Linked DNA regions of Homo sapiens. The protein of the gene in region 2 purifies or fractionates together with the protein of the main gene of each other region. This does not show direct contact. Each region holds a gene or a part of one and is shown on either strand. Other genes may lie near its edges.

Region 1 (3,648 bases), on a different chromosome or scaffold from region 2:
AAACAATGGCACCATTTCCTCCATTCTCAATCTGCTTTCTTCATGGCTGGAAAAGAAAGTTTTCCAGTTAAAAATGATTATGTGCAAAGATAGGAAACATTCCATCAACATTAACATATTTAATAATTTATGATTAATTCAAATGCATAAATTTCACATATTACCAGCTCACATGTTTCTTCAACAGTTCATCAGATAACTATCTTGAAAATTTCTGCTTGAAAATTTGTTCCCTTGACCACCCTTTTGCCCTCTCTTAATCAGTCTCCTCTCTCTCTCTCATCTTTTCTTCCTTCTGCTATCAAACTTTTCCTACTGGATCTCAGCCACCGATCCCAGTTCCCTTTTACTTCCTGGTAGTCTGGCTGTTGATCCCTTTGCTCTGAGGCACTCTAGATTTAAGGTCTTGCCAGTGATGTGACCTTCTCTATGTATTTCAAGTACCTATCAAGAGGTAGGTGGTAGAATGGAAGGACCACAAGCTTAGGTGTCAGAGTGTCCTGGGTTTGAACCCTTGTTCAATTTGTTCTATGGGAAGCTCCTCCTCCTCTCTGAGCCTTCATTCCCTTATCTGCACAATGAGGGTAATAATCTACTTCGCAGCGTGTTGTGAGGAATAAATAAGCTGGAAATTTATTGAGCACTTATAATTCACTATGCACTATTCTAAGAACAGGGCTTATCTCATTTAATCCTCACAACAAATCTATGAGATAAGTACAATCACTTCTCTTGGGTTACCAACGAAAAAACTGAGTTCCAGGGTGGTGAAGAAACTAAAAAGATCACACAACTACAAGAGCAGAGTCAGGATTTGAACCCAGATAGACTGAGCTTAACTACTGGCTGTGCTGCCTCTAATATAAAGCACAAAATAAGAGCTTTTACAAGGTTACACTGGCCTGGTGTGGTGGCTTATACCTGTAATCCGAACACTTTGGGAGGCCAAGGTGGGAGGATAGCTTGAAGCCAGGAGTTTGAGATCATTCTGGGCAACATAGCAAGACCCTGCCTCTACAAAGAAAATGTTTTAATTACCTAGGCATGGTGATGCACACCAGTAGTCCTAGCTACTTGGGAAGCTGAGGTAGGAGGATCACTTGAGCCGAGGAGTTTGAGGTTGCAGTGAGCTGCGATCGCACCACTGCACTGTGAGCCAGGCCTCATTCCCCGATCAGTACCCCCCAAAAATGTTACATTGTAGAGTGAAAAGAATGTAGATGCTAGAGGCTAACAGATCTGGGTTTGAATATTGGCTGTGCCACTGACTAGCTGAGAGATTTATGGAAAATCACTTAATCTCTCCTACTCTGCTTCCACGTCTGTAAAAATTTCATTGCTCCACTTTTCTTCAGGCCTATAATATAGGTTAATATAATCATTTATATAAAATGTTCATCATAGTGTCTGGCTCACAGTAAACATTTGATATATGGCATTTGTTAAAATTAGGATAGGAAGTGACATCAGAAGCACAATAAATATTTGTATAAGACAAAGCATTTATTGTCTCCAGCAAGAACCAAAGTAAAAATTCTTACCATAATTTTCCAGGTCTCAGATTCATGTCCAAACTACTGCTTCTGCTTCAACCTTCCTACCAATGACTTCCTAGTAAAACCCCTTAGCTTTTTTTTTTCTTTTCTTTTTTGAGACGGAGTTTCACTCTGTCACTCAGGCTGGAGTGCAGTGGCACAATCTCGGCTCTCTGCGACCTCCACCTCCCGGATTCAAGCGATTCTCCTGCTTCAGCCTCCCAAGTAGCTGGGATTACAGATGTGCACCACCACACCCAGCTAATTTTGTATTTTTAGTAGAGACCAGATTTCACCATGTTGGCCAGGTTTGTCTCAAACTCCTGACCTCAGGTGATCCACCCACCTTGGCCTCCCAAAGTGCTGGGATTATAGGCGTGAGCCACAGTGCCCGGCTGGCCCCTTCACTTTAGAAGGGAGGGTGTCCGCCCCCTGGGCTCTGCTCAATCCTACCAGTGGGTGTTTATAAAGTAGGTTCTGATATAGGTATGGGAACCCTGCATCCCAAATTTTCTAGGGCAATTCTGATTTTCTTCTCCCTTATCAGACTGTATGGCAAACAAAGTGTCCCAAGTTGAGAGTCAGAAAACAGTATCACCAAAAATATAGGCTATCACTTGTTTTCTTGCTCCATGCATCTTTGAAAATAAAATGCTGTCCTTTGTGCCCAGATTATACTAAAAAAAATAACAAAATAAACCTAGGACCTATGCCTCTTGCCATGCCATTAGTCTACAATTTTTTTTTTTTTTTAAGACAAACTCTTGCTCTATCACCCAGGCTGGAGTACAGTGGCATGATCTCGGCTCACTGCAACCTTCTCCTCCTGGGTTCAAGTGATTCTCCTGCCTCAGCCTCTAGAGTAGCTGGGATTACAGGCATGCACCACCATGCCCGGCTAATTTTTTGTATTTTTAGTAGAGACGGGATTTCACCATGCTGGCCAGGCTTGTCTTGAACTCCTGACCTCGTGATCCCCCTGCCTCAGCCTCCCAAAGTGCTAGGATTACAGGTGGGAGCCACGGCACCCAGCCTAGTCTGCTCTTTTTCTCCTAAAATAAGGTGGTGGATTTATGAATACAAAGAGTCTAAGAATGGTGGACTAGGTCTAGCAATGCTGTTCCTCAGCAGCTTTTTGGACAGAAGTCTTTGTAGACCTGTGGCTCTCTCACTTGATGTAGACCCATTTGAATGAATCTCCTTTTGCTTTCTCTTTCTTTAATATTTTTCAGGTACGAGCAGGTGATAATAAATATATGCACTTGAAAGTATTCAAAAGTCTTCCCGGACAAAATGAGGACTTGGTACTTACTGGATACCAGGTTGACAAAAACAAGGATGACGAGCTGACGGGCTTTTAGCAGCATGTACCCAAAGTGTTCTGATTCCTTCAACTGGCTACTGAGTCATGATCCTTGCTGATAAATATAACCATCAATAAAGAAGCATTCTTTTCCAAAGAAATTATTTCTTCAATTATTTCTCATTTATTGTATTAAGCAGAAATTACCTTTTCTTTCTCAAAATCAGTGTTATTGCTTTAGAGTATAAACTCCATATAAATTGATGGCAATTGGAAATCTTATAAAAACTAGTCAAGCCTAATGCAACTGGCTAAAGGATAGTACCACCCTCACCCCCACCATAGGCAGGCTGGATCGTGGACTATCAATTCACCAGCCTCCTTGTTCCCTGTGGCTGCTGATAACCCAACATTCCATCTCTACCCTCATACTTCAAAATTAAATCAAGTATTTTACAAAGTGTGTGTGTGTGTGTGTGTGTGTATATATATACTTTTTTTTTTTTTTTTTTTTTGAGACAGAGTCTCGTTCTGTCACCCAGGCTAGAGTGCAATGGTGTGATCTCGGCTCACTGCAACCTCCACCTCCCAGGTTTAAGCGATTCTCCCATCTCAGCCTCCCAAGTAGCTGGGATTACAGGCACCTACCACTGCGCCTAGCTAATTTTTGTATTTTTAGTAGAGACAGGGTTTTGCCATGTTGGCCAGGCTGGTTTCGAACTCCTGACCCTAGGTGATCTGCTCGCCTTGGCTTCCCAAAGTGCTGGGATTACAGGTGTGAGCCACCTTGCCCAGTCTATATTTTTATTC
Region 2 (3,648 bases):
GAAGCAGCTTTTTGCGAAAGAAAAGCTGACGCTGGGTAGACAATGAAAATGAAGATGAATAAACACATTTCCAGAGTGACAGTGGTGAATTCATCCAGTATATCAGAGAAAGGCAATGGCTCTCAGTCCCTCTATAAAAGTGATGCCATCTGGGCCTAATTCAGAAGGTGATTAAGTTTGGGAGCGGTGGCTCACGCCTGTAATCCCAGCACTTTGGGAGGCCAAGGCAGGTGGATTGCTAGAGCCCAGGAGTTCAGAACCAGCCTTGGTAACATATGGAAACTGTCTCTACAAAAACACAAAAATTAGCCAGGCATGGTGGCTCCTGCCTGTAGTCCCAGCTACTTGGGAGAATCACCTAAGCCCAGGAGGCTGAGGCTGCAGTGAGCCATGATCGTGCCACTGCACTCCAGCCTGGGTAACAGAAACCCCATCTCAAAAGAATAAAAATTAAAATTCAGTTTAAAAAAGAAGCTGATCAATTCTTGCCCAGCCCATATCTCCAACTCTTGGGAGGTTAGAAGCACAATACCTTGCTGAGTTTTTCTATCTGGCGCTCTAGCTCTGGGATGCTAGATGCTGTGGCATCAACCTAGGGAGAAACACATGGGCATTATGAAAAAGGAGGTTATCAGATTCAAGAAAGAGGAATTTATTTTCTAACTCCCACTTTCCTTGATCTTGGGCCAGTACCTCTCCATCTCTTCGACCCCTGCGGCCAGGGACAGCTGCTATAGACTCCTCTTCTTCCTCTTCTTCCATGCCACTGGTCTCCTCCATGATCCGAGAACTGCGCCTCCGTCCCAGGCATTCCTCTGGCCCTTCCATCTCTACTTCAGACCGCCCAGTTCGCTTGGCCAGAACAGTTTTCAGCCTTGAAATAGATGGAGAAAGATTAAGGGAAGGCCAAGTGTGGTGGCTCACACCTGTAATTCCAGCACTTTGGGAGGCCAAGACAGGCGGATCACCTGAGGTCAGGAGTTCGAGACCAGCCTGGCCAACATGGTGAAACCCTGTCTCTACTAAAAATACAAAAATCAGCCAGGTGTGGTGGCATGGGCCTGTAATCCCAGCTACTTGGGAGGCTGAGGCAGAAGAATCGCTTGAACCTGGGAGGCGGAGGTGGCAGTGAGCCAAGATTGCGCTATCGCATTCCAGCCTAGGCGACAGAGGAAGACTCCATCTCAAAAAAAAAAAATTACGGGAAACTGGTGAGGAACATGATAGTGCCACAAAAGAAATACCTTGACTCTAAACCATCCTGGGCCCTGGTAAGGTCCCAAACCCAGGGAAGGGGCTAAAGCATCACATTTCAAGCCAAAACCCTGGCTATGCTTCACCCGCCCCACTTCTCTCCTCTCTGAGGCTCTACTCTCTGTCTGGTCCCTACCTCCGGAGCCGGCCTTCAACAATCCACTTGTTTTTCCTGTAGCTGGACATACTCTCCAGAGTCTTGTCAATCTCACTGCAGGGGAATAGGGAATAGGATGAAGTGGCAGCACAAAAAAAGGGAAAGGAGGCTCAAGGGTAAAGGGGCTGCAGCTGAAAAAGGAGTTCCAGCCTAGAACCCAGATTGGGTGAATGGCAGAAGGCTTAGGCTCTCCCAGGGAGGGCACTGCAATTCAGTCCCAAGTCATTCCAGCATCTTCAGAACATGGCAGTGAACACACATTTCTGAGGACTTCTGGAAGGCTACAAGTCCTCCACCCCATTCTGATGCAAGGGATACAATGACCATCCCCACTCCCAGCCTCTCACTTGATGATGAGGGTGGAGCCATTGAGCTCATGCACAAGGAAGGCCAGGACAGCAGCCTTCTGCTGGGGTGGCTGGGCCTGAAAAGGCTGGGTGCGCAGGCGGTCACAGAGGGCTGGCTCTACTCCATATGCCATAAGGAAGCAGCGCAGGATCTCTGACACATTGTCTCTTGTCAGTGGGATCTCAGACACCTTCTCCCCCAAGATCTTTAGGGACTGTGTGGAGGACAGCATAATGGGGGTGAGTAGGGAAAGATGCACAACCAAGTTGGGTGAATGTGCAAGAGGAAAATACATCAGAAGAGAACTATGGGGGTTAAGACAGAATACGAAAGAAGACCACAAAAGAAAAGGAAAAAATAAAGAAAAATAAAATAAGGAGAGGAGTCAGGAAGAAAAAGAAATGGAAAAATATAAGGAAAAGAGAAACACTAAGTAGTTACATCTCCTTTACTTGTCCTGGTTACTTTGGGAGGGACTTGCACTCACCTGACAGTAGGAGGGAAAGCCAGGATCATGGAGTGCAGCCTTCAGCAGCCTGACCAGCAGGTCTTGCACCTCACCCAAGCTGTCACCTTGACACAGGAGTCCCTCCTGCAGGACCCCCAGGCTAGGCACATCTTTGGCAGGATCAAAGCCCAGCACCTTGCCAAAGCTATGCAGGAACTCCACAATGGTCAAGCAGTCTGAGAAGGCTCCACTGGGCAATGTCAGACCAGGGACTCGTGAGAAGTCAGGCAGGGGCTAGAGAGAGAAAAGTGAGTAGAGAGTTCTGTTAAACATAACAGAAGATGACAATTTGCATGTCTACAAGAGGTTCTTCCTTTAATTTTTATGTAATTTTTTTTTTTTTTTTGAGATAGGGTCTCACTCTGTCACCCAAGCTGGAGTGCAGTGGCATGATCTCTGCTTACTGCAGCCTCGACCTCCTAAGCCCAAGCAATTCTCCCACCTCAGTCTCTCAAATAGCTGGGACTACAGGTACATGCCACCACACCCAGCTAATTTTCGTATTTTTTGTAGAGATGAGGTCTCGCCATGTTGCCCAGGCTGGTCTTGAACTGCTGGGCTCAAGCGATCTGCCCGCCTCGGCCTCCCAAAGTGCTGGGATTACAGTGTGAGCCATGGCACCCGGCCTTCCTTTAATCTTTAATGGAAATGTCTCTCCCATTGCAGAAGTCCTTTTTTTTTTTTTAAAGGAAAGTCTTCCCAGCTGACCCAGGAACTGTTACTCTCTCCTCACTACCTGGTGGTCAGTCAGACACATATCCTCTGTCGGCTTCTTCATTTCCTCCAAGATCATCTGCTGCCTCTGCCGTTCCTCCAAGCGCCTCTGTGTGGCCAGGGTCTTATCTGCTTTACAGGCTGGCTTGGCTTTGGTCACCTCCTCCTTTTCCTTCATTTTTACCTTCTCCTTCTTTTCCCTCTTGACTTTTTCCTTCAGTTTTTCCTGCTTTGTCTTTCCTTTTTCTTTCTCAGCCTACCCAAGGAAGAGAGGAACCAAGACTGCCATAAAGATATCAGTCACTATCCTTCCCTGGTCCCAGTCCTCCCAACCTCACAGCCCAGAAATCTCACTATAAAACAAGACTGATGTACATGTCCTGCAAAATCAGTTTAGTGGCTTCGAAATTATACTTGGCAAGTTTGTACATGCACCTACCTTGGATTTCTTCTTAGCTTCCTTCTGCTTTAAGCTCTTGGTCTCTTGTTTCCGCTTATTTCTGGCCTGTAAACCATAAGGGAAGTCATTTCTCCTCAAACTCTGAAAGCATCTCTGCTTGGGCTAGGATTCAAAAACAGACAAGGGTGCTGGGGAGGAGAGGTGAGAGATGGAATGAGGGGTTGGCAATGGATTAATTCTCTCACCCTAGAGATGCCCACGTTATTT
Region 3 (3,648 bases), on a different chromosome or scaffold from region 2:
CCTCTGGCTCACTGTCCCCTTCATCTTCAGCAAGCCTATCAGGAAACTTCTTGCGCTTCCTGCGGACATATGGGTGGCCAGGAAGGTGTTTATGCAACAGAGCCACTAGACACTGTTCTGTCTTCACCATGCAGCTTAGCACATGGCTGCCACGGCAGTTGTAAACCTCAGCATTGGTAAACACTTGCTTCATGTCAGTAAGAAACTCCTGCACAGAGCGGTAGCTCCCACAGGAACATTTGTTCTGCACTGTCTGAAAGTCCATGGGGTGCGTGATCACATCATAGTAGTCCTCGGCCTCATCTCTGGTCACAGGCTCCCTGTGGAGAAGAACCAAATGGAGAATCTGCACAGCCTTGACGGCAGTGCCCCTGCCACTGAGACACGTCCTGAAAAGCAAGGGCTTGGCTGAGAGCCCCTCAGGGGCTCTGGAAGCTTTTAGAACCAGCCAGGCCACTCCTCTCCCCTGCACCTGAGAACACAGCACTCACCTGAAGGGCCAGCTGAAGCGGTACTTCACGATCTTGTGGAGGATCTCTTCACACTTCTGCAGCTCCAGGCTTTGCCTCCGGGAGCTCCGCTTGGTCTGAAGCACCTGGCAGGAAAGAAAGAACAATGTTATTACAGATTCAAGACAGGAGGAAGAATGGACAGGGCAGAAAATAAGTGTATCTGCTCAAAAAAGGAAGAGAGTTCAACTATTTCCTTGGCGCAGAGGTGCTGAAACCTTCTGATATTCAAGTCAGGGAGCACCCTCGGCCCAGGTGGCAGGCATCTTCCCAGTAGTCCACTCACTCGCCTCCCCCGGGGCCACGGCAATCAAAGCAGCAAAGAGCAGGCAGCGGGGGCCGCCTTTACCAGCAGTCCTGCTGGAGGTCGGCTGAAGGGGGCTACTGTCAACAGGACACTAGCTCTCAGAGAACAGGTGGACCTGGGGTTACAGTGACACCATGGAAGGGCATCAACAAGCCACTGCAGAAAGCAAAACATGCTATCTGGGCCAACAGCAGCCAATTCTGTGGGGGTGGGGTGCCTCTGGTAAGAAAAGCAAGAGGTCCAATTCCCTTCCTGGGCTCTTCCACCGTAGACATGTGAGGGTTAAGTGGCTAAAGAGAAAAGGGGCGGGGCCTCCATTCCAGGTAGCCATAACAAAAGCTGTGATTCACAGCAGAGGCCACAGAGCCCAAGGCTGTGGCAAACCGAGCATCTTCTAATGCCTTATGATCTCCCAAATGGCCTGCCTTAAGCCCCTAACTCCAATTTGATCTGTCAAAACAAGCACCTTTTCAAGAGTTTCTTTTTTGTTCTTTAAAGCTCAAGTGAGATCTAAAAACTACTAAAATTACATTGGTTAAGGAGCAGAGGGGAGGGTAATGTCCCTCCCATAACAACTGTCGACTCAACAGTAAGTGAGGCTCCAGCATTGCTGACATTCCCACAATGAAGACCCAGCCCCTCTGAGCCCACTGGAGACACATGGATACTATTTTTAAATCCTTAATAAGTTGCAGGCTGCCCGCTAACTAGTTTGCAGGCTACAGCAGGGGAATGCCGGACATAGCTGTTCCTGGAGGCCTTGCTGCTTCTGTCTGCGTACAGGCTCACCCATCTGCCTCCCCAGCCTCCCAAGTTTGGTAAGAAGGAGGAGGGGGGAGGCTCCCCTCCCACCTGTTGCCTGATGAATTCCTAATTGCTGGGGTAGGGAATAAGAAACAGAAAGGTTAGAGAAGGGATGATAAATAATTCTCACCAGCTCATCCACCTCAGCATCATCCACAGGTGGTGCCTTGGGCTGAGACCTCCTGGTAGAGTGTGGCTTCTTACCCGGGCGCCGGCCTGACCTTGCTGCAGGGGGGATGACGCTGTGCTTGCCCCGGATGGTCTTTCGAGGTCTCACTGAAAGAAAAACTATGGATTCAGCAGAGAACAACGGAAGGTGAAGGGAGGAGCATCTTCGAAATGGGGGAAAGGGATGCAGGGAGAATCCTTTTCCTGGACAAGGAAAGCAGTGGCCTCCTTTGGTTTTAAGGTGCTCTTGCTATTTTATCTTGCCTTACCTAACAGGACACTAAAAGGCAGTGGCAGCCGATGAAGAATGGGTGCCTTTCATCCACTGCCAAAGCCCTTCAGAGGGCTAGGTCCTTCAGTACTTCTGTCCTGCCCCGTCCTGCAGTTACTCCCAGCCATAAGGCCCCTGCAGGAATCAACTGTAAACTCTCACTCATGAGAAGCCATTTGCTAATAGGTCAGCCTGGATTTCCCACAGCCCAAGCTCAGCCTGAGCGAGTGGATGTATTTACATGTAAGATGGAACTGGATTGTAAAACAAACCCTATGTTGTAATTCCCAGAGTTATTCTACACTTACCATCAGAATCTTTCCAGAGAAAAGCTGGTACTTCCATGAAGGGCCACAAGGCTCCTCATTAAATACAATTTAGGGCTAGTCCCCTCCATAAGAGCCCTGCCCAGGATCCCCAATGAGAGAATAAAGAATATAGGCCGGGCGTTGTGGCTCACACATGTAATCCCACCACTTTAGGAGGCTGAGGCAGGTGGATCACCTGAGGTCGGGAGTTCAAGACCAGCCTGACCAACATGGTGAAACCCCGTCTCTACTAAAAATACAAAATTAGCAGGGCGTGGTGGCACATGCTGGTAATCCCAGCTACTCAGGAGGCTGAGGCAGGAAAATCGCTTGAACCTGGGAGGCGGAGGTTGCAGTGAGCCGAGATCACGCCACTGCACTCCAGCCTGGGAAACAAGGGTGTAACTCCATCTCACAAAAGAAAAAAAACACACACACACACACACACAAAGGCACTGAGACTACTTGTGTCTCAGGTTTACAACAGGTGCTCACCATCAAGCCAACTGGCATTCCTCAGTGAGCCCTGGGAAACAATGCCATGAGGATTTAGCTCCAGGCTCTCCACCACCTTCCCTTGGGGAGTGGGGAGATGACACTGGACACAGAGGTCTAGGAAGGCAGTGACACGAATAATCCAGAAACACTACTTTCCATTCTATTTCTGGATCACGATAACCCTTTCTTGGCTACTTTAGCGTCTCTAGCTCAAGCCCAGGCTAGTAAGAAAGGGTAAGAATCTGATGCTTAGGTGCTAGAACCTTGAGCTGCACTGGGGAACCACATCTTTGGTGGTCTGAAAGATAGAGTTGACAAAAAGCTCTGAAGTACCAAATACTTCCCAGATCCTTTTGGCAAGTCGAGGCCGTAAAAACTTAGAAAAGCAATTCCTTGGAAAGAGAGCTACAACGTAGAAGTGGAAAGCAATCACTAGCTTACAAATAAACAGAATCAGTATACTACCATATTCAGGATCTGCCCTCAGAGAGATCAGGCGCAGTGGCTCACACTTGTAATCCCAGCACTTCGGGAGGCCAAGGCAGGAGGATCACTTGAACCCAAGAGTTCAAGACCAGCCTGGGAAACATGGCAAGACCCTATCTCTACAAAAAAGCCGGGCATGGTGGCACGTGCCTGTAGTCCCAGCTGCTCAGGAGGCTGAGGTAAGGAGGATTGCTTAAGCCTGAGAGATCGAGGATACAGTGAGCAGTGATCATACCAGTGCACTCTAGCCTGGGCAACAGAGAAAGATACCCATCCCCCGCTCCGCCAAAAAAAATA

The links.
Region 1: the proteins of BAZ2A (region 2) and CSTA purify together in Homo sapiens (affinity purification with mass spectrometry; one large-scale study listed by BioGRID and IntAct). This does not show direct contact.
Region 3: the proteins of BAZ2A (region 2) and BAZ1B fractionate together in Homo sapiens (co-fractionation; one study listed by IntAct). This does not show direct contact.

What each region holds. Positions count from the first base shown.
Region 1 is NC_000003.12:122,338,672-122,342,319, forward strand, and holds the end of CSTA (cystatin-A), read left to right. Parts: intron 1-2,767; coding exon 2,768-2,896; 3' UTR 2,897-3,298; downstream 3,299-3,648. UniProt on the Homo sapiens protein: This is an intracellular thiol proteinase inhibitor. Has an important role in desmosome-mediated cell-cell adhesion in the lower levels of the epidermis.
Region 2 is NC_000012.12:56,602,827-56,606,474, forward strand, and holds part of BAZ2A (bromodomain adjacent to zinc finger domain protein 2A), read right to left. Parts: intron 3,487-3,648; coding exon 3,421-3,486; intron 3,238-3,420; coding exon 3,004-3,237; intron 2,502-3,003; coding exon 2,247-2,501; intron 1,974-2,246; coding exon 1,759-1,973; intron 1,466-1,758; coding exon 1,391-1,465; intron 875-1,390; coding exon 694-874; intron 593-693; coding exon 533-592; intron 32-532; coding exon 1-31. UniProt on the Homo sapiens protein: Regulatory subunit of the ATP-dependent NoRC-1 and NoRC-5 ISWI chromatin remodeling complexes, which form ordered nucleosome arrays on chromatin and facilitate access to DNA during DNA-templated processes such as DNA replication, transcription, and repair.
Region 3 is NC_000007.14:73,442,234-73,445,881, forward strand, and holds part of BAZ1B (tyrosine-protein kinase BAZ1B), read right to left. Parts: intron 1,897-3,648; coding exon 1,751-1,896; intron 596-1,750; coding exon 492-595; intron 321-491; coding exon 1-320. UniProt on the Homo sapiens protein: Atypical tyrosine-protein kinase that plays a central role in chromatin remodeling and acts as a transcription regulator. Involved in DNA damage response by phosphorylating 'Tyr-142' of histone H2AX (H2AXY142ph).